3 linked regions of the Homo sapiens genome follow. The protein of the gene in region 2 interacts with the protein of the main gene of each other region in a pairwise test. Each region holds a gene or a part of one and is shown on either strand. Other genes may lie near its edges.

What was found. Proteins that work in one complex are often made in the same cells at the same time.
Region 1: the proteins of RTN1 (region 2) and UGCG interact in a two-hybrid assay, tested with the Homo sapiens proteins (2 studies listed by BioGRID and IntAct).
Region 3: the proteins of RTN1 (region 2) and NDRG1 interact in a two-hybrid assay, tested with the Homo sapiens proteins (one study listed by BioGRID).

The regions. Positions count from the first base shown.
Region 1 is NC_000009.12:111,892,950-111,899,818, forward strand, and holds the start of UGCG (ceramide glucosyltransferase), read left to right. Parts: upstream 1-3,864; 5' UTR 3,865-4,266; coding exon 4,267-4,364; intron 4,365-6,869. UniProt on the Homo sapiens protein: Participates in the initial step of the glucosylceramide-based glycosphingolipid/GSL synthetic pathway at the cytosolic surface of the Golgi.
Region 2 is NC_000014.9:59,867,768-59,875,456, forward strand, and holds the start of RTN1 (reticulon-1), read right to left. Parts: upstream 3,010-7,689; 5' UTR 2,864-3,009; coding exon 2,623-2,863; intron 1-2,622. UniProt on the Homo sapiens protein: Inhibits amyloid precursor protein processing, probably by blocking BACE1 activity.
Region 3 is NC_000008.11:133,245,248-133,252,271, reverse strand, and holds part of NDRG1 (protein NDRG1), read left to right. Parts: intron 1-1,728; coding exon 1,729-1,832; intron 1,833-3,500; coding exon 3,501-3,557; intron 3,558-4,345; coding exon 4,346-4,397; intron 4,398-5,608; coding exon 5,609-5,656; intron 5,657-7,024. UniProt on the Homo sapiens protein: Stress-responsive protein involved in hormone responses, cell growth, and differentiation. Acts as a tumor suppressor in many cell types. Necessary but not sufficient for p53/TP53-mediated caspase activation and apoptosis.

The DNA of each region.
Region 1 (6,869 bases), on a different chromosome or scaffold from region 2:
AGTTAATGTGTATTTTTCTCACAACGAAAAACCATTTAAAAATCTTTACAGACAAAGGAGAAAGCTGAGAAATTTTTCCAGAAAGTTTTTCCAGAAAATTTCAGAAGTCACTGAAATTTTTCCAGTGACTTCTGTCAATGGATAAATAAACATTTTATCTATTCATTCAGTCAACAAATATTTAAGTGCCCACAAGGTGCTAAATCCTGGGATCTGATGGCAAACTGGTAATTTTTTTTTTTTTAAGTCAGAGTCTCGCTCTGGCACCCAAGCTGGAGTGCAGTGGCATGATCTTGGCTCACTGCAACCTCTGCCTACCAGGTTCAAGTGATTCTCCTGCCTCAGCCTCCCAAGTAGCTGGAATTACAGGTACCCACCACCATGCCTGGCTAGATTTTGTATTTTTTGTAGAAACAGGGTTTTACCACGTTGCCTGCCACCACGCCCAGCTAATTTTTCTATTTTTTGTAGAAACAGGGTTTCGCCATGTTGCCCAGGCTGGCTTGAGATCCTCCCACCTTGGCCTCCCACAGTGCTGCAATTACAGGCCTGAGCCACCGCGCCCAGCCGCAAACTGGTATATCTTATTCAGACATTTATAGCATTTCCAATGTTATACACATATTTGTATACATATATAAGTAGAACACCTTTAGTGGAACACTCACTAATTTTTTTTAAGAATTTACTTTTTAGAGTAGTTTTAGGTTCACAGCAAAACTGAGCAGAAAGTACAGAAGGTTCCCATATACCCACTGCCATTCCCTCCACCAGCCTCCTCCACTATTAACATCTTGCACCAGAGCACCATATTCGTTACAACTGATGGACCTACATTAACACACCATTATCACCTAAAGTCCATAGCTTACATTAGGGTTCACTCTTGGTGGTGTATTTTCTACGGGGTTTGCCAAATATATGACATGTATACACTATTATAGGATCATACAGAATAGTTTCACTCACAGCCCTAAAAATCCTGTCATCTATTTGTCCCTCTTTCCTCTGCTCCATGGCAACCACAGATCTTTATACTGTCTTCATACTCTTCCCTTTTCTAAAGCTGTTTTAAAACGAAGTTTGGGTAAACATAGTTTAACTAGGGTCAAGTATAATATAACTGATCTTTAATCTACTGATTATACTCAATTTAGCAAATTTGTTAACTCTTAAGAATATCTACTTTCACATTTCTTTGGCCTCTTTTTTTGTGTTATTGGTCATACTGTATAAAATCCTTTGTTGTAAGGTTCCAGAAAACATTTTTGAAAAAATGCAGAATATAAAACAATGCTTAAATTAAGCAATTGGTGTTCCTCAAATCTAAGAGGGCATTTAATGATAAGATGCAGCATTATTTTATATATCACTAAGATGCACTATTATTTTATATTTGAGTAAAAGAAAACCACAAGCCATTGGCTGGGCACGGTGACTCACGCCTGTAATCCCAGCACTTTGGGAGGCCGAGGCAGGTGGATCACGAGGTCAGGAGTTCGAGACTAGCCTGAACAATATGGTGAAACCCCGTCTCTACTAAAAACACAAAAATTAGCCGGGTGTGGTGGTGTGCAAATGTAGTCCCAGCTACTGGGGAGGGTGAGACAGGAGAATTGCTTGAACTCAGGAGGCGGAGGTTCCTGTGAGCCTAGATCACGCCACTGCACTCCAGCCTTGGCGACAGAGCGAGACTCCACCTCAAAAAAAAAAAAAAAAAAAAGAAAAAACGCCAATTAACTCTAAGATGGCATTGACTGTGAGATGCATTCCCATTTCAGAGAAATTAAAATTTGTTAAAGTGTTTTTTTGAAGTGTGCCTTAGAATTAACTACAATCGTAAATTTTTGTTTGGAACGTTATTTCGATGTTAGAATTCTATTCCACTTTTTTTTAAGACAGGGACTCACTGTCACCCAGGCTGGAGTTAAGTGGCGCGATCACAGCTCACTGCAGCCGCCACTTCCCAGGATCAGGTGATCCTACCACCTCAGCCTTCCCGGTAGCTGGGACTATAGGTGCCATAACCATGCCTGGCTAATTTTTTTTTTTTTTTTTTTTTGTAGAGACAGGGTTTCATCATGTTGCCCAGGCTGGTCTCAAACTCCTGGCCTCAAGCAATCCTCCTACCTGAGTCTCCCAAACTGCTGGGATTACAGGCATGAGCCACTGCGCCTGGCCCTCCATCCTGCTATTTTTATCAGCCAGTAACTCTCAACAGTGGGAATTTGATTTTGAAGCATTGTTCTTTCCCACTGATTCTGCACCAGTGGAGCCAAGGATGTTAATCGAGGAATGGTTCGGACATTAACTCTTCTAGTTGTAGTTTGTCATTTAATTGCAGATTGAGGTAGATCATTCAGTGACTATTAACTACCATAAACAGCAATAATAAACAACTTCTTTTCTTTTTTTTAAATTCATCTATTTTTTTTCGAGACAGAGTCTCGCTCTGTCGCCCAGGCTGGAGTGCAGTGGCGCGATCTCGGCTCACTGCAACCTCCGCCCCTCCAGGTTTAAGCAATTCTCTGCCTCAGCCTCCGGAGTAGCTGGGATTACAGGCGCCTGCCACCACGCCCGGCTAATTCTTTGTATTTTTAGTAGAGACGGGGTTTCACCATCTAGGCCAGGCCGGTCTTGAACTCCTGACCTCATGCTCCACCTGCCTCCGCCTCCCAAAGTGCTGGGACTACAGGTGTGAGCCACCGCGCCCAGCCACAACTTCTTTTCAAAATTGAATTCAATTCTGAAATATCTCAAGGGAGGTCATGGATTATTTAAAAGGAAATCACTTGCAACAATAAACATAAAACAATGCAGAAATAGTATAAACTCATCTAGATTGAAGAAACACAAACATTGAGTACTAGCATCTTCTTGGGATGACTTAAAATTAGGACAAATACTTAGTTACCTTACTACCCAAAGTGACATTTCTTCCCATTTTAGAGCTGTGCTGTCCACACGTACAATTAAAATTTTCTAGTAGCTAGCCAAAGTATTTAAAAAGAGAAATTAACTTAATAATTTACCTAATTTAATGTAGTATGTCCAAAATATTACCTTTTCAACATGCAATCAATATAAAATTTACTAACGAGATGGTCTTCCACATCTGGTGTACTGTTTACTCCACAGAGTGGCAAGCTGCCTTTCCAACCCTCACTTAGCCACATGCGGCTACCGTATTGGATGGCAGTCTTAGGGAATTTCAATATCAACTGATTCTTTAATTCTGAATTTGAGAATTTCTTTTTATAATACACACGGTCGCTAAGGCGCTTAGAGATCTGTGAGGCGCATGGAGATTATTTTACTCTCCGGTCCCTTTTGATCCAAGATCCCACAGCATTAAAAGCAGTAAGAGGGAAGGCAATGGGCATCCCTTGCGCCCAGGAACGTGGCCTGGAGGGCCTGGCTGCTCCGAGCAGTAGCAGTGCCCGGCGGGGAGGCTGCAGACGCGGCGTTGGAAGTTGGATTTCTAGACAAGCTCCGGCAGCTGCCCGGAACCCGTGTCTTTTTCTGGGGCACCCAGGAACAGCAGGGCCAGACGGAGAGAGAGCAGCCTCCAGCCAGGCACAGGGTCCCGAGCTGCCACCGACACCGAGGGAGCCCGGCCCAGGGCTGCAGCGCTTTCCGCCTAGGTGGGCGGCAGCGGGAGCGAGGAGCCGGAGGAAGCCCGGCCTGCGTCCTGCGGGCAGCAGGACACGATCTCCCCGGCGCGCTCTCGCCGGCGCCGCAGCGGGCGCGCGGGCGACAGGGTGGGCGTGGACCGATGGGGGCACCGCCCCTGGGAGAGGCGGGCGCCGCGGTTCCGGGGGCGGGACGCGCCGAGGAGTGGGGCGCGAGCCGCCGGTTTTGATTAGTGCGCGGAGCTGCGGCGGTGGAGCTGCTCGGCCGGGAGCCCGGCGGCGAGACGGAGAGGCGGCGGAGGTGCCCGCGCGCAGGGTCTGGTGGGCGGCCGCGAGGCTCGGGAGAGGCGAACCGGAGCGCGGGACCGCGGTCGCCCCGACCAGAGCCGGGAGACCGCAGCACCCGCAGCCGCCCGCGAGCGCGCCGAAGACAGCGCGCAGGCGAGAGCGCGCGGGCGGGGGCGCGCAGGCCCTGCCCGCCCCTTCCGTCCCCACCCCCCTCCGCCCTTTCCTCTCCCCACCTTCCTCTCGCCTCCCGCGCCCCCGCACCGGGCGCCCACCCTGTCCTCCTCCTGCGGGAGCGTTGTCCGTGTTGGCGGCCGCAGCGGGCCGGGCCGGTCCGGCGGGCCGGGGGATGGCGCTGCTGGACCTGGCCTTGGAGGGAATGGCCGTCTTCGGGTTCGTCCTCTTCTTGGTGCTGTGGCTGATGCATTTCATGGCTATCATCTACACGTGAGTGAGGGACCGCAGGAGGGGCTCGGGGCAGGGGTCCGGGCCTCGGAGACAGGCGAGAATGGGAAACGTTTGCGCTTTGAAGGGGACTGGGCTCGGGCGGGGGTGGAGAAAGCTGATCGTCAGGCTGTTCCCCCCGTTCCCTCGCCCCTCGGACCGGCGGTGGCGGTGGTCTTTGCGAGGGAAAAGTGTTGGGCGTGGGAAGGGTTTGCTGGGTTGCAGGCGACTGCCCAGCCAGGCTAAAGGAGACTGCTCTTACGTGTCAGGCTGAAGGTGGTGGCTTGGTTTGATTGTGCTGGGGATTCGTGTAATTTTTCATCTGGGCCGAGATGTATGGTGTATTGTTTTTTTCTCCCGACCTGGGCCACGTTTCTGTTAGGGTGGTGATTGTGTCCACTTTTCTGGGAGCTGCTCACAGCTATCTGGACACCTCTCTGTGGATTTTCTTCTTCCTGGAAGGGCTCTATGCGCTTAGATAGGTGTGAAGCACCTGTCCACCCTGAAAAATGTCCACCAAACCTCCGAGCTGGCATGATAGCTTTGAGTCCTGTCAGCTTGTACATCTCAGCGTGGTTTTCTTTCCTTTTTTCAGTTCCTCGTTTTATTGTTTTATGTAGATTTGTACTCTCCCCGTGCCGGCCACATCTTTTCATTTTTGTTTAACAAATACTTCTTGAGGCCTACTAGATACCATTCACTGTTATTGGCCAGGGGACATGGTGGTGAGCAGGACAGAATTCCTGTCCTCATGAGTCTTACATTCTAGAAGGAAGGAGCAGATAAAATCTAAATAAGGTTATGAGATTGTGACGAAGCGTGTAAGTAAAATAGAACTGGGTGATGGCGTGAATAGAGACATGGGTTATGTGGCTAGTTTGGTATATCCACTGTTTAAGGTGAAATCTGCCTCTGTAAAGAAATGAAAAAATTATATAGAGCACATTACTGATATCGATTCACTTGGATTTTTAGTCTGGGGGGAGAAAAGAGCAATTGTATATAGTAATCGTTACCATGAACTAGAATAGAGTGTATGTTAGTGGAAGAGACTTTAAGAAATTAGTTACTTTTAGTTTTTTGGTTTTTTTTTTTTCCTTTTTACTGCGGAAAAAGTGTGCCTTTGCTTTTGGAAACACTGTATTTTATTAGTATAGTGTGGCATTTCCTGGTACTGAGAAAGATGATGCTGGTACAGGTTATACTGATATTTCTTTGAAAGTGAAAGAAAACATGCCACTTGGATATTGTTGACTTTAGTTTTTGGAGTTGGTGAGCTTAGTCACAGCACATTCTGGAGTTCATTTAAAATATGTGAGTTCTTTTTCTTTAAAAAAATTGTTACTTTTTACCGTCATAAAAATAAAAAATGCTTACTGTGTAAGGAATTTATGCAATAGAGAGAGATGGAGAAAATTAAAATATGCACACACCAAAACTACATTACCTTGTTAACCTTTTGTGACTATCCTTCCAATCTGTGTGTGTGTGTGAGAGAGAGAGAAGGAGGGAGGGGAAGAGGGAAGAGAGAAAAGGACTATATTATGATTATTGTTCTGTAACCTGCTTTAAAGTTCATCTGTTTAATAAATGTTTATTGAAAAGCCGTTTTGTGCAAGGCACTGTTCTAGTTGCTGGAAGAGTGAAGAACAAACATACAAGGCCCCTGTTCACATGGAACTGTCCTGTAAAATGTCTTGACCGTTTTTTGCATGTCAATATCTGTATGATCTCTACATCATTTGTAATAGATGCATGATATTTTAGTTTACCAGGTACCAAGATTTATTTATTATTACTGATGGATGTTTAGGTTGTTTCCAATTTATCTAGATTACAAAGAACACTGTGATGAATTTATATGCATACATCTTTGAGAAATGATCTCATTTATATTTCCGAAAGAGGAATTATTGGGCCAGAAGTGGTGCACATTTTAAACTTTGATACATATTGGCCCCATGGAAATGTTATGTATATTCACAGTCCTGGTAACATTGTATGATGGCCCCATTTTGCCTTACAAACACTAAGTAGCAGGCATTTCACTGTTTTCTGTTTCTATTTTCATTCCTTTAAAGTTACATTGAGCACTTTTAAAATATGTTTATATGCTAGTTACATTTAGATGTAAATTACATACTCATAATCCTTTGCCTGTGCTGCAATCTGTTGCTGAATTCATCTTTCTGATATAAAGGTTGTTTTCTGTCACATGTAGCATTCTTTTCCCCAGTCTGTTTTTTGTCTTTTAACTTTGTACATATATTTGACATGGAGAAAAGTGTGTGTGCATGTGTGTTTTAGGTAGATAGGTCTTTCCGTTTCTTTTACATTTTCTAACTCTGTTATAATTTTTATATCTTCCTTATTCCTCCAAATTATTATATATGTTAGTCTCTGCTTCCTCTTAGTATTTTTTTCTTAATTTTTTCACATATTACCCTGAATTCACCCAGTATTTTACTTCGTTATATGAGAGCTAGAGCCCTAATTATAGTTTCTTCT
Region 2 (7,689 bases):
AGTGCATCACACTCAAAGTCTAAGTTACTTCTTAGTTTGAGTTGAGTCCCAAAAAAGCACCACTCTTTTAAAAAAATAAAGCACTCTTCTGCCATGTGGGGACACAGTGAAAAGACAGCTGTGTGTGGACCAGGAAGCAGACCCTGACCAGACACCAAATCTACCTTGATCTTAGATTTCTCAGCTTCTAGCACTGTGAGAAAATAAATTTCTGTTTATAAGCCAAAAAAAAGTAAATTAAGAAATACAGTGTAAAGTAGTGTGCTTAATAGGCATCTCTGATACAATTGAGGGCTCACCTGCTAACTTTGCTTATAGCAATAGAACTGCCAAAATAACAGACCAGGAAGCTGGACAAGATTTGTTTGGAATTTTAAGATCTAGTTATTTATTTATACAGCATTTCTGGCGTTTGAGTCTCTTATAGCAGCACATCCGGTCTACTTAATAAGAAACACAGAGATTTAAGACATTAACCAATCAACAACTATATCAGAAATTCCTTCTAGCCACAATCATAAACTAAAAAATTTCTATATAAATATGCAAAATATGTGCTCCTTCCATCTTTCTTCATTCTTCTCCCATCCAAACGTAGTATCATGTTTGATTTTATTACTATATTTGTTGCCTAGGATAGAAAACCCCAAACACATTCAATAAAGCAAGGTATTTCTATAATAATAATACTAAAAATGCAAAATGCATTGTTATTTACTACAGCCACCTTTCTGTAACAATGCACTGTACATTTTGAAATTGCTAAAAGAGTAAATTTTAAACGCTTTTACCACAAAAAAAAAGTACATGAGATGATGGATTTGTTAGCTAATCATTTGACAATGCAGACATATGTCAAAACATCACACTGTACCCCACAAATATATATTCTAAGCATTTCCTATATAATAACTTTTGTGGATATGTTACTGAGCATGGGGCACTTAGCTTCCTTTTTCTAGTTCACATAATCTTAGTGGCACTAATAGGAGGTGGGTAATGTTTCATAAAGAAACAATTTACTTTGATTACAGTGGATAAAGATTCTGAACTATGAGCAGTCTATCCTCAACAAAGAATGGTAAAGACAAAAACTACCTTCCTTTGTCTATTATCATTTGCCATCTTCTTTTGCAATTATAAAGAGTTTTGTTTTCACTTGGATGCAGAAGTTGAAAGAGAGACTGAGCAGCCATTCTTAGATTTAAATCCTCCCCCACTCCTAGGGATATAATAATTAATATATAACCTTTGGCGTTTGGCGTTGGGGCTTTTGAGTACTTTTCTTTCTTTCTTTTTCTTTTTTCTTATATAGGGTCTCCACTTTTTCTCTTCCTTTCAGGATATTGACAATTTTTATTCAACGCATTCTCCAAACCTCTTTTCCCCAGCTCAGATCTTCTGTACCAGGGCAGTTAATTACGATTACCTTAGACATTCCACATAACCCTTAAGAGAAGCTTACGAAAAGGGGTTTCTTTAAATCAACCACCAAGAGCACACACACCAGTCCCACTCCCCTTCCCCTCCTCTGGGAGCACCCCCCACCCCAGGCCTTCTAGCTCTACATTGCCAAAACTACACAACTCCCACTCCACCATAGCAAAGCTTTCTCAGGAAAGAGCACCACACAGCATCCCCTTTCCTCTCCCTGGAAACAGCGTTAACCAGGCCGGCAGCCTCAAAGCGCGCTTCCTGGATCCTTTGACCAGGATGCGCCAGGGGCCTGGGCTCCCGCTGGACACTGGCGCGCTCAGACTTTGAATAGGGCGTCAGGCGAAGAATGGCCAAACCCAGGGCAATTTCCGGGGTGGGGGGGGGGGGGCGCTTAGACTGCTGGTAAACTGTACCACGTCCACTCACCACCACCCAAGCCCTCCAACCCACAGCCAGGCCCGCCGCACTTAGGACTTGAAGTTTCAATGCTCCCTGCAAGGTGGGGCCATCCGGGCAGCGGCGAAATACAGGTTTTGGGCGGGGGCAGCCACAGCACCCAACCCTCTTGCAAAGCTGTGCCTCCCGAATTAGGGACAAACTCCCTGGGATTTGTTTTCTGCGGGAGAAAAGGCGGAGGGATGTGGGGGGAGTAAGGTGTGGTGGCGATTCGTGGAGGGCAAGGGTAAGGGGCAGTTACAGCCACATCTCTGCCCTGGACAGAGCCGGGTCCAGGGGCCGCGGGCCTGCCCGCCGCTCGGTTGTCAGCATCTCCTGTAGCCGGCGCGCACACTGCGCGCAAACACGCCCCCCAAAATCCCCACAACCTGTCAAACGGGCCCTACAGCTCGGAGCCTCCTGGCAGGAGGGAGAAACTTGTACCCAGACTCGCCAGCAGCCAGAATGCTGCTGTTTGCCTATGAGAACAATTTTTAAAGCGGAAATAATCATGATAATGAAATAAAAGGATCAAAAGCATCTTGACTTTTTCTGAGCCTTTGGGAAAAATAAAATTGTTGTTTTCTACCAGCCCGCGAATATTCCCAGTCGCCCGTGGCGACGCGGGGGTGGGGTCGGCGCTCAAGGCAGAAAGCGCGAGGCAGGTGCCCAGGAGAGCCGCGCAGAAGGGGACTGACTGGGGGGCCCTGGTCCCCGACGCCATTTGAGGGGCAGCGGCGCCCGCCTTACCTGTGGATGCAGTTTCCATGGCAACGGGCGACTGCCGGGCGGGGCCCGAGCCGGCTTCCCGCGACGCCGCTTCCCGGGCCCTGGCGCCCAACCCCGGGCTGGGCTCCCCAGCCTGCGGCGCCGGCGTGGCCCCTTTCGGCGTCACCGCTTCGTTCTCCCCCTCCCCCCGGTGCCTGAGCCACTGGGACCCGGGGCCGGCCAGCGGCAGCAGCTCGTCCTGCGGATCCCCCGGCGCGGCCATGGCTGGCGGTCCCCCGGCGCGGCGACGGCGGCTTGGCTGGGCAGAGGCTCGGTGGCTGCGCGGGCGCTCCCTGCTGCTGTCCCCGGAGGGACTCGGCGCTCAGGGAAGCTGCGGTGTCTCAGCGTCGCCGCCGCCTCTGCTGCAACTCCGCCGAGCCGCTGCCTGCCGCTCTTCCCGCTTCAGCTCCTCCTTCTCCCCCCTCCTCTTCCTCCGGCCCCGCCGCGGCCGCTGCCTGCGCTCCTCCTCCTACTCCACTCGCTGCTGCCGCCGCTGCTTCGCTATTCCCAATCCTGTTATTACGCAGGTGAAAATGGCCTGCTTGGTCCGGGTCCTCCTGGGCACGTCAGCCCCCAACCTGCAAATGGCAGGCCCCGGTTAGGGGATGTGCCAAATCCACTCGAATCTTCCTCTCGTTTGGGGAGGAAAAAAAAGGAAGAACCAGCAAGTAGCAGCAGCCACCAGCAGCGTCGCCTTCCCAACTGAGAAAGTTAAGCCCCGACTGGTGTCCTGGGTCCCGAGGCAAAGAGGGAAAGCTAGAGAACTCAGGGCCACAGTTCTGAGAGTGACCAGTATGAGTTGTGGAGGGGACACAGGTCTGAACGGGGAAGGGGTGGAGATGGGTTCTGATGGCAGATGGAGACCAGGGAAGCTGCAACCCCGCGGTTAAATCCTGCGTTTCCAGAATGGGCCTGAAAATAGTGGAGTAAAGAAATGAGTTATCAGGACAGCCTCCAAAAAAAGCTTAACAGATCTCACCCTGACCAGCCCTGAGGGCAAACAGGGTGTCAATAGGCAAGGACAAAAGCTGTACATTTGCTTTCAGAAACACTGAGCCAAGGCCATCCTAATCATAAGCTGTCTGTGCAGTCCGTTGTATTTCAGAATTTGGACATTCCATGAAGCTTGCATCTTTTTCTTTACAGTTCACTGTGATAAAATGGAAGATAGTCAGCAAATAAACCCAAACTCAGAGGAGGAAAGTGACTTGCCTTATCATATGTTGTGCCCATACGAAGACCCATCTTTTCAAATGTCTTGTGTTTTATTGGTTCCCAAGTTGTTTATATAATAAAATAATGTGCCTTTAAAAACTAAGATTCACCACAACACACAGGGTGAAGGAATAGGTTTTTCTGCTGTTTCTTCTCTAGGAAAGGTGGGCGCAGACGGTACCGCACACACTGTGAGACTGTGGGACTCTTGGCCACCATGCGCATCTTGAGGATTTCATACCTGTCCATTGGTATATTCAAAGGCCAACTTCAGGACCATTCAGGTGCTCCTCAATAATGCTAAAATGAAAAAGCCCAGAGTCTGCCTAATCTTTTGTTCTGCTAGTGCACTAATGTTCAAAAGATGACAATAAATTAGAGAAAAATCATTCACTAAACAATAAATATGGCCTCCTGAAGCCAGATATCCCTGGAAATCTGATGGTCACCAAAATTTTACATTTTTGACATACTCAAAATTATGTCTCATGATGGAAATATTCACTATCTAGATTGTGGTTATAGCTTCACAGGTGCAAACATATGTCAAAACTTATTGTTTACTGTAAATATGAACAATTTAATGTGTTGTCAGTTATAACTCAATAAATCTATAAAAATAATCTCATCCAAAAACAACAAAATAATTGGTTATCATGAATCATAATGATTTTTAAACATCTTTCCATGGGAAAACAAGAGTGTATTTAAAAAACCGTTAAGTTGAAAAGCTTATTCCACTGCTGTATTTCCATGGAGCTTAATCCTGTCTTGTAATTAGAGGGCACTTGTAAGTTTTTTCAAATCTATTACTTAGTATTCCCTAAAGCATCAGAAATACTAGATGGGAATTTCTCATGGTTTTATTACTGATAACAAGACAAGAACATAGACAATTCTAATGATATAACCTTAAAGTGGTTATTGATGAATACTAATATTTGAGAATTGCTATGCAAAGGAGTTACATACAAAATAATATGAAGTATATTCTTTTGTTTCTCTGAGAAACATGAATGAAAGTCATCATTAAAAAACTGGGAGACCTAAGCAAGCCTCTGTGTTTCCTTATGATTAATAGATAGGAAGTTTGGGGATATGATTCTAATTATTTGTCAATTTCTTTCATACTAATCAATACTCTCATTGAGAATGTGTGAAGGAAATAGCCAGTTAAATCTATTTAGAGTGTAGTTGTTAAAGGAAATTGAACATTATTGACAGTTCCATTTTGATAAAGTATTCTATTTTACACTGCTGAAAAGAGATGAGCACAAGATTTCAGTGTTAGCAATTTTCATTACTAACTTTCCTTATTAGACTCCACCTTTGGATGTATAAAAATTATCTATTTGGGGGAAGAAATTTTCAGGTTTATGCTATGACTTGAAATGATTCATGTTTATTAATATTATTTATTTTGCACCGCTCTGAACTGACAAAGCTTGACTAATTTGAAGATTTATGGGCAAAACACACAGTCGGCAATGGGATTCTGGGGCTTACATAGTTGCTCTAAGTTACGAATTACTCTAAAATGCTTTTCAGACACAGAGAAAATAGGATTGTCACTTTTAAAAGGTTCTTAGCAAGAAGAGTTGAGACAAAAGAACTGTCACGTTTTGTTTTCAGCTTTTGTTTTTTGGAAAAGAAGTTTTGTTCATCATTTGAAAAGAAGAAATGAGGAGCATTTATTTAGCACTAGCTTCTTAACTTAGTCCAAACCATATATCATGGGGAAACACGGTGTGGGGACATGCAGGAAGAGCGCCACAAGTAACAAGCTTTAACCAAGATGAAATTCTTTCCAGCCTCAATATTAAAGTTACCTAACATCTCTACAACCCAGGTTCCTCAACTGTAACCTGGAGATTTTTTTTAAAATTTTTGTGGGTGGGTACATAGTAGGTGTATATATTTATGGGGTATATGAGATATTTTAATACAGGCATACAATGAATAATAATCATATCATGGTAAATAAGGTATCCATCACCTCAAGCTTTTATCCTTTCTTTGTGTTACAAACAATCCGATTATAATCTTTTTGTTGTTTTGAAATATAAAATAAATTATTGTTGACTGTAGGTGCCCCATTGTGCCAGTGAATACTAGATCTTATTCACTCGTATCTAACTATATTTTTATATCTACCATTAACTGTCCCACCTCCATGCCCCTCAGGCCCCTGCCAGCCTCCCAGCACTACACTTCTTGGCCTCTGGGAAACCGTTCTACTCTCTATCTCCATGAATTCAACTGTTTTAATTTTAATTTACCACACATAAGTGAGAACATAAGAAGTTTGTCTTTCTGTGCTTGGCTTATATCACTTAACAGATGTCCTCCAGTTCCATCCATGTTGTGCAAATGACAGGATCTCATTCTTTTTTATGACTGAATAATAGTCCATTGTGTATATGTACCACATTTTCTTTATCCATTTGTCTCTTGATGAACACATGGGTTGCTTCCAAATTTTGGCTAGTGTGAATAATATAGTGCTGTGATAAACGTTGGAGTGCAGATATCTCTTCAATATACTTTTGCTTTCTTTTGGGTATATACCCAACAAACAAACAAAAACAAGAAAACATTGAAACACTGGGGAAACTCTCCAGGATATTGGTTTGGGCAAGCATTTCTAGAGTAATGCCCCATAAGCACAGGCAACCAAAGCAAAAATGGACAAATGGGATCACATCAAGTTAAAAATCTTCTGCACAGCAAAAGAAACAACTAAGTGAAGAGACAACCCACAGAATAAGAGAATAAAATTGCAAATTATCCATCTGACAAGGGATTAATAACCATAATATATAAAAAACTGGGATTGCTGGATCATATGGTAGCTCTAGTTTTTTTAATTGGAGTCAGATGACATCTCATTGTAGTTCTGATTTGCATTTCTCTAATGATCAATGATATTGAGCACCTTTTCATATGTCTGTTTGCTATTTATTTGTATGTCTTCTTTTGAGTAATGTCTATTTAGATATTTTGCCCATTTTTAATTGGATCATTATATTTTTTCTTAATAGAGCTATTTGAGCTCGTTATATATTATGGTTATTAATCCCTTGTCAGATGGATAATTTGCAATTTTTTTCTCTTATTCTGTGGGTTGTCTCTTCACTTAGTTGTTTCTTTTGCTGTGCAGAAGATTTTTAACTTGATGTGATCCCATTTGTCCATTTTTGCTTTGGTTGCCTGTGCTTATGGGGTATTACTCTAGAAATCTTTGCCCAGACCAATATCCTTGAGACTTTCCCCAATGTTTCAATGTTTTCTTGTTTTTGTTTGTTTGTTTGTTTGAGACTGAGTCTTGGTCTGTCACCCAGGGTGGAGTGCAGTGGCGTGATCTTGGCTCACTGCAACCTCCACCTCCCAGGCTCAAGCAAATCTCTTACCTCTGCCTCTCGAGTAGCTGGGATTACAGGTGCCTGCCACCATGCCTGGCTAATTTTTGTGTTTTTAGTAGAGACGAGGTTTCACTATGTTGGCCAGGCTGGTCTTGAACTCCTGACCTCAAGTGATCCGCCCATCTCCGCCTCCCAAAGTGCTGGGATTACAGGTATGAGCCACCACATCTATTTGGCCCCCAGTGTTTTCTTTTAATGGTTTCCTAGCTTGAGGTCTTCAGTATAAGTCTTTCATCTATTTTGATTTGATTTTTGTATACAACAAGAGTTAGGGGTCTAGTTTCATTCTTTTGCATATGAATGTAATGTTGTCCCAGAACTATTTTTATTAAAGAGACTGTCCTTTCCCCAGTGTGTGTTCTTGGCACCTTTTTCAAAAATGAATTCACTGCAGATTAATGGATTTGTTTCT
Region 3 (7,024 bases), on a different chromosome or scaffold from region 2:
AATACAAAATTAACCGGATGTGGTGGCACGCGCCTGTAATCCCAGCTACTCGGGAGGCTGAGACAGGAGAATCACTTGAACCTGGGAGGCAGAGGCTGCAGTGAGCCGAGATCGCGCCATGCACTGCAGCCTGGGTGAGACAGAGGGAGACTCTGTCTCAAAAACAGAGAAAAAGGAAAACAAAAGTGTATTCTCTCACAGCTCTGAGTCTAGAACTCCGATGTCAAGCGCTGGCAGGGCCGCCCCTCCGCCACAGGCTCCAGGGGAAATTCGTCCTTGCTTCTTACTGCTCCAGGTCGCTGTCGGCATTCCTTGGCTAGTGGCTGCTCACACCACTCTCTGCCTCTGTCTTCACATGGTCTTCTCCTCTGTGTCTGTTTTATTTCTCCCTCTCCTTCCTCTTTTAAGGATACTTTCCATTGGATTTCATCCCGGCTCATGTAATCCAGGATTATCTCATCTCAAGATCCTTAATTAATTACACCTGCAAAAACCCTTTTTCCCAGCAAGTTTGCATTCCCAAGTTCAAGAGATTTGACATGGACATATCTTTTGAGGGCCACAGTTTAGCCCACTAGAGTCCTCTTTCCCCTTTTACGATTCATTCCACAGCGTGTGACACATTTTCCCTGTCCTGAGTGTGTAATCTGAAACTGATAGGAATTGGGAAAAATTCACAGCCACTGTCTCTGTTTCACTGGAGGAGGGATGTCAGACATAGCGTTGAGCATCTGATCTGATTATACCCCAAGTTATTTGGAGACTGGTTGGTCCGGCCATGGTGTCTGAGGGTACCCCCAGATCGCTATAGTTGGTTTTGATCTGAAATCCCAGCGTGATTCCTGACTATTTTTTCCAGAGTTTGCTCTTAGTAGCCAGTTGACCTCCTTGCTGCCTAAATGATCCTGGACTGTTTGATGCAGCTCAAGCTTGACACCGGCTTTCTTTGACCCCCAACTCCAACTTCTCATCTGGTTGCCACTGGTCATATCAGACCCTTGTGTGAAACCTACAGTGTCTGCCCTCGTACAAATGAGAAACAGAGCAAACAAGTTGTTTGTCGCAAATAACATTCAAAAAGCACCCAGAGACGGGGAGGCTGAGGCCGACTTCCCCAAGGCTCTGGTTGGCCGTGGTGGGAGTTGCAATTGCCCTTCTTTTCAGTAACTTCCTGTGGCATGAGTTGATTTTGCTTTTCAAGCATGAAAAACTTCTTTTCAGCTCTTCCCATTGGAAAACAATTACTAACATTTGCCTCCAATTTTTACTGTTAGTAGAGGTGAGAACACAACCTCCATTAAGTCCTACAACCTAGTGAAGTAGGCAACATTCTCTCTCTTCCCTTTTTTTTTTTTTTTTTTTTAAGAGATCTGAGGCTCAGAGAGGTTGAAAGATTTGCCTACGAAAGGGACAGTGATGAAGCTAAGCTCTAGATCCAGGATGTCTGACTTCAAATTGAAACTCCCAAAGTAATGAGTTTGGAAGGGTGGGGTGTGGCCTTTCCAGGATGGGGGTCTTTTCTGCTCCCAGCGGATAGTGAAACCCCTGTCTGCACCTGGTTGGGCGTGTTGCTTTCCCAAAGGTTTTTTTTTTAGGTCCGTCGCTGTCTTGTGGATTAGGCATTATTATCTTTACTTTGTCTCCAAATAACCTGGAGAATGGAGAGAGTAGTGACCAGCTCAGGGCCACAGTGCGATGAGGACCATCTTCTCACCTCTCTAAATGCAGGAAGAAATGCAGAGTAACGTGGAAGTGGTCCACACCTACCGCCAGCACATTGTGAATGACATGAACCCCGGCAACCTGCACCTGTTCATCAATGCCTACAACAGGTATTGGGATGTAGTTCAGCCACATCATTGCTATTTATGAGGTGTCTTCTGTAGATCCGAAATGTGGGACAGATGAGAGGGAGAGTATAAAATGAGCGGAAGAGGCAGGCTCTGAGTTTGAGCAAATAGATTAATAGGACAGGTGTCCCCAGGAAGGACACCTGGCCTGTAAGCTGGTTCCTGGCATTCAGCTCGCCTTGCAGGGATCTGAACAAACACTCCAGACCACTGGGGGTGCAGACGTGAGAGGGACGCAGTCGCACACTCAGAGGGTTGAGAGTAAATATGTGTGCCCGCTGCTGACCTTCACGAAAGGCCAAATGTAAGAAGAGCTAAGTGAGAGAGCAGCAAAGCACTCCTGGAGGCCGGGGATAATCCAGGCAGGCTTCTGGGAGTTTGTCATTCCAAGGATAAGGAGGACCTGAACATGGCCTTTGCCTAAGGCGTGGCCCTCTCAACCAGCACTAGGTGCTTATCTGGAGCTCAGCTAGGGGAGGAGACAGCTCAGGGCCATTGGTGTCAGCCAGAGACTCTGTAATCTTCCAGGGAGCTCGCTCAACCTGCTGAGCTCGCTCTGCCACGCTCGCAGAACAGGAGATAGAAATGAGCCTCATAGTGTTTATCTCTGCTCAAATGTTAATAAAGTGACTTCTTGAAATTAACATTTGTAACAGAGCTTAGTATCTGCCTCCTTTTACAATCCTGCCCTCATCTCAGTGGTAACATCCTCACTGTGGATGTGACTGAAGAAACCGAAACCTGGCAGTGCGGTTCACTTAGTAAACACTTTCTGAGAACTGGAGCGAGTCAGGCATTCGGCTGGGCGCTGGAGACACAGAGGAAACCAGCACAGCCCGCAGACTCCACACTGTTAACTTGCCCGTGTAGATAGCACCGTAATTAACTGACCCCTCTCCAAATCCCACTGTGAAGGTCCTGGAATTACTGTCATTTCCTGTTGAGGAAGCAAAGGCGCAAAGAGATCCTGTGTTCTCCCCAAGGCCACACAGCTAGAAAGTGGCAGAGCATGATTTGGATCCTGCTTGTCTAACTCCAGGCTGTGAGCTGGGAAAGAGCTTCTCATGTTGGGAGCTGCAAGATAGCAGAGAGGGTGGGTGGCTGCGTGCAGGAAAGGTGGTCGGCACTGGGCTGGACCCACACTGGGCCTCACACGAGTGCAGTGGGAAACCACCACAGGGTTTGAGACAGGGAATGGAAAGATGAGGCCTGAGTTTTAAAGAGATCATTTGGGTGCTTTATAGAGGACTCAGAGTTGGTGAGGCTGGGACTTAAACTAAGAGGCTGCGAGAGCATTTGGGAGGTGGCCCCTCTGTCAGGTGGGGGCTCTGACTAGGGGGACAGGGAAGGCGGGGACCCTCTATGGTGGAGAATCTGACTTCTACTCCTGGAAAAAAAAGCCCCACAAATATTTGTGACAAAATGAGGGGGCTCTGCTTGAAATGCATGTGTTGTGCTGTCCCTCTAACCAGGTCTGTGGACACCAAGAGGGTGTGGAGTCCTGAAAGCCACAGGGCCTCTCTCAAGTTGGGGATGTGGGTAGCTTACCAGAATGGCCACTGGCAGGACCTCCTGGGCTTGGCTGGATGGGAGTGGGAGATTTCTCCAGGGGAGGGGTCCTCATGCTAATGATGCATTTGTTTCCTGCAGCCGGCGCGACCTGGAGATTGAGCGACCAATGCCGGGAACCCACACAGTCACCCTGCAGTGAGTGGCTTTTCTCTCCCCCAGCACTTGCAGTCGGGGCTGCCCACTATAAAGGTGGCCTTGCTGGCAGGGCCTTCTTTCTGAGTGTGGCAGGACATTGTGTCAGTGAGACCTGGATATATTCCACCCAGAGACTGAGCATTACCCAGCCTGACTTGGACTTCTCCCTGTGCCGGTGGCATCCGTTTCTAGGGTGTCCCCATGACCTAGGCCTTTGATCTTGGAGAAGGATGGTTGATTGTACTTGGGACAGCATTTATTAAGCACCTACTACATCAATAACTGTGTGAGGCTTTGCTCCATGAAGCCTAGGGATGGATAGCACAGGACCCAGCCTTAAAGTGCTCCATACACCTAGGAGGAAAAGACAGTCATGGACAGAACTAACTGGGTTTCCACCAGTAATGATGGTGTCTTTTTGTGGCTGAGTGCACCGCGTTGTGTGACACTTGGGAACCTGGCACGTCATTGCCTTTGTCCTTCATGCTGTTCTTGTTTCGGTCTTGATTGCCAGCTAAGTCCTGCTTAACCATCCTTGAGGAGAAGATGCTTTAAAACAAAAGCACTGAGTCACAGAAATTCCCTGGCTGAAATTCATACTAAGTTGTGAATGACTAGTAACCAATGTTATCCTAAGATCAAAGGAGAATGAAGTAAAAGAGCAAAGGGTGTTGGGGAAACCAAAATGACATTGTTTGTAGAATGCAGGCCCCAGCCTGGCAGGCCTGGGAGTGGGACAATCTTTAAAGGAACCTTGTGCTAATTCTCTGCTCTATCCCTGACCCCAGGTGCCCTGCTCTGTTGGTGGTTGGGGACAGCTCGCCTGCAGTGGATGCCGTGGTATGTAGAAATCACAGCTGATTTCTGTGTTTAATTCAACAGGCAAAGTCTGGTTGACTTTGTTGAAGTGGCCCTGCCTGCCCCTCCTCTCCTCTGCCCCATCAGGGCAGGTGATGTTTTTTGAAATGCCATATTGGCCTTTGGGCAGAGGGCCCAGCCACTCAGTCTCTTTCCCTGGTGGCTGCCAGCCCTGGTTGCTTGGCAGTGTCTCCTCTCCCAGGTCCCCTCACCCGCCAGTCTGTGTCCCATCGGCTTGTTTATATGGGCATGTTTGCCACTTGGCTTCCTGGCCAAGAGACTCACCTCTTATTTGGGAAGCAGCTGGATCTTTCCAAACTGACTGGTGCCTGATGAGCTGGCAGGGGAGAGAGGCACTGGGAGGCAGGGCTTAGCAAAGCTTCCTGACTCCTTTCACCCCTTAACTCCCACCTGCAACTTTGTGGCAGCAAAGAGAGGAATCTGCCTTTCAAACAACCCCACAGCTGGGGAGATGGAAGACTTAGGGGCTATGGATCAGAGTCCTGCAGTACTGCCATGCTTTGTGCAGTGATCTGCAGAGTGACATTTGCAAATGTTCATGTAGTAAATACCTGGCATGCCTTAGTGAACCATGAGTTTCTTACGGGCTGACTGACTGGAGATAATCATGGGATACATCAATAGAGATACACTGTTCAAATCAAGGGAGGTGATAGTTTTACTTTAAGCATTTTGAACATCCTGGGTTACATATGGGTATTCTGCCCAATTCCAGATGCCCCTTTCAAGAGGTTCACTGACAAAATGAAGAGAGAAACCAGTGTGATTTTACATGAAGAATAGTTGTTAGATCTGGGAATATTAAACCTGTAGAATCTCTGGCAGCTGCTGGTTAAACAAGGATATTTATTTAGCAGGTATTTCTACAGTACTGTTTACATTTCGGCTAATCTTCATAATAACCTTTTGAAAAAAGATATTAGCTCCATTTTATTGATGAGGAAACTGAGGCCCAAAGAAGTTAAATCACTTATCCAAGTTGTCACAGCTGGTAATGGCAAGGCTGGGATTTCAAGCCACATCTGCTGAATCCCAATAACTCCACATACTTTCTTCTTTGCCAGCAGAAATACTGGAGTTTCTGGTGACGGTGGCAGAGTGGCGGAGAAGGGGGAGATGTTTTGGCTTTGGCTTCACGTAGAAAATTAACAGATTTCCTCCCTCTTGTGCAGGTGGAGTGCAACTCAAAATTGGACCCAACAAAGACCACTCTCCTCAAGGTACAGGGAAAACAGTGGGGGTTCGTGTTTGTTATTTCTTAGAAACTCTCAGACGTTTTCTGCAACATTGAGTTAGGCTTGAAAAAGGCAAGGCACACGATCAGAAACTATAGAATTAATGATTTAATCTATCTGTTTATGAACATATATTGGGTGCTGACTGGTGATCTGAGGCTGCAAAGATGAGGGATCCTTCTCTGGGACTGCAGGAATCAATAGGCTGCTGGTCTGGGGGCTTTGGGGATAGAGGGACCAGGGATGGCTTGGCAAGGGCCCTCCATAGGCTGGGGCCAGGACATTCCTCCAAGAGGGGCTCTCTGCTTGTCACAATAAGAAGAGACGTGTCCCACAGCCGGGGAAGGTCAGGACTTTGTCCAGCAAGTTCATCTGAGCACATGGTGAGCCAGCTCACTCGCAGCTGGATTTGAGTGTCTGTAGCAACCTCCGCCAGTCCTTTGCCAGTTATGACTGATTGCACAATGCAAACCACTGGCTGTTTGTGGCGGCCTCGTCCGGAGATGCAGCCCAAGAGTGGGAACCTTTCAGAGGGGCCTCTCAGCCGGGGTGCACCCCTGCAGGGGCAGATGACCAGGCGGGACCTGGGTGGAGATGAGGCGGCTCCCTCGCACTGGGGGAAGGACAAAGAGGTGGCATCTGTAGGTCACCGTGCCCTCAACTTCCCCCATAGAAGTAGAATGCCTTTGAAAGGCATGTAGGGGGTGTCCGATACTTATTGAGTGGGAGGCTGTTTTCCTGTATTGGGCTCTTTACATAGATTTTCTTTCAAGATTCCCTCAAAAGGAAATTGCAAGATTAGAAGCTGCTGGGCGTCAAGCTTGCATAATGCCGTACTTTGAGGGCGGTTGTCACAAGTATCACAAAATGGGTGGCTTAAAGCAACAGATATTTATTCCCTTTTAGTTCTGGAAGCTAAAAGTCCGAAATCAAGGTGTGGGCAGGGCCGTGCTCCCTCTGAAGGTGCTAGGGGAGAATGCTGCCTGCCTCTTCCAGCTTCTGGTGGCTGCTGGCCACACTTGGTTCACCTTAGCTAGTAGACACATCACTCCAGTCTCTGCCTCCATCCTCACTCAGCACTCTCCCGATTGTATCTCTGCGTCTATGTCCAAATTTCCTTCTTCTTTTAATAACATCAGCCGTTAGCTTTAGGGCCCGCTCTAATCCAATATGACCTCATCTTAACTTGATTTTACCTGCAAAGACCCTATTTCCAAGTATAGCCACAGTGATAGGTACTGGGGTTAGGACTTCAGTATGTCTATTTTGGGGACACAATTCAACCACAACCTACAGCAAAGGGTAGGTGGCCTGACTGAGGTGGGGTGGCCGATTTGATGGTAGATCCAGAAA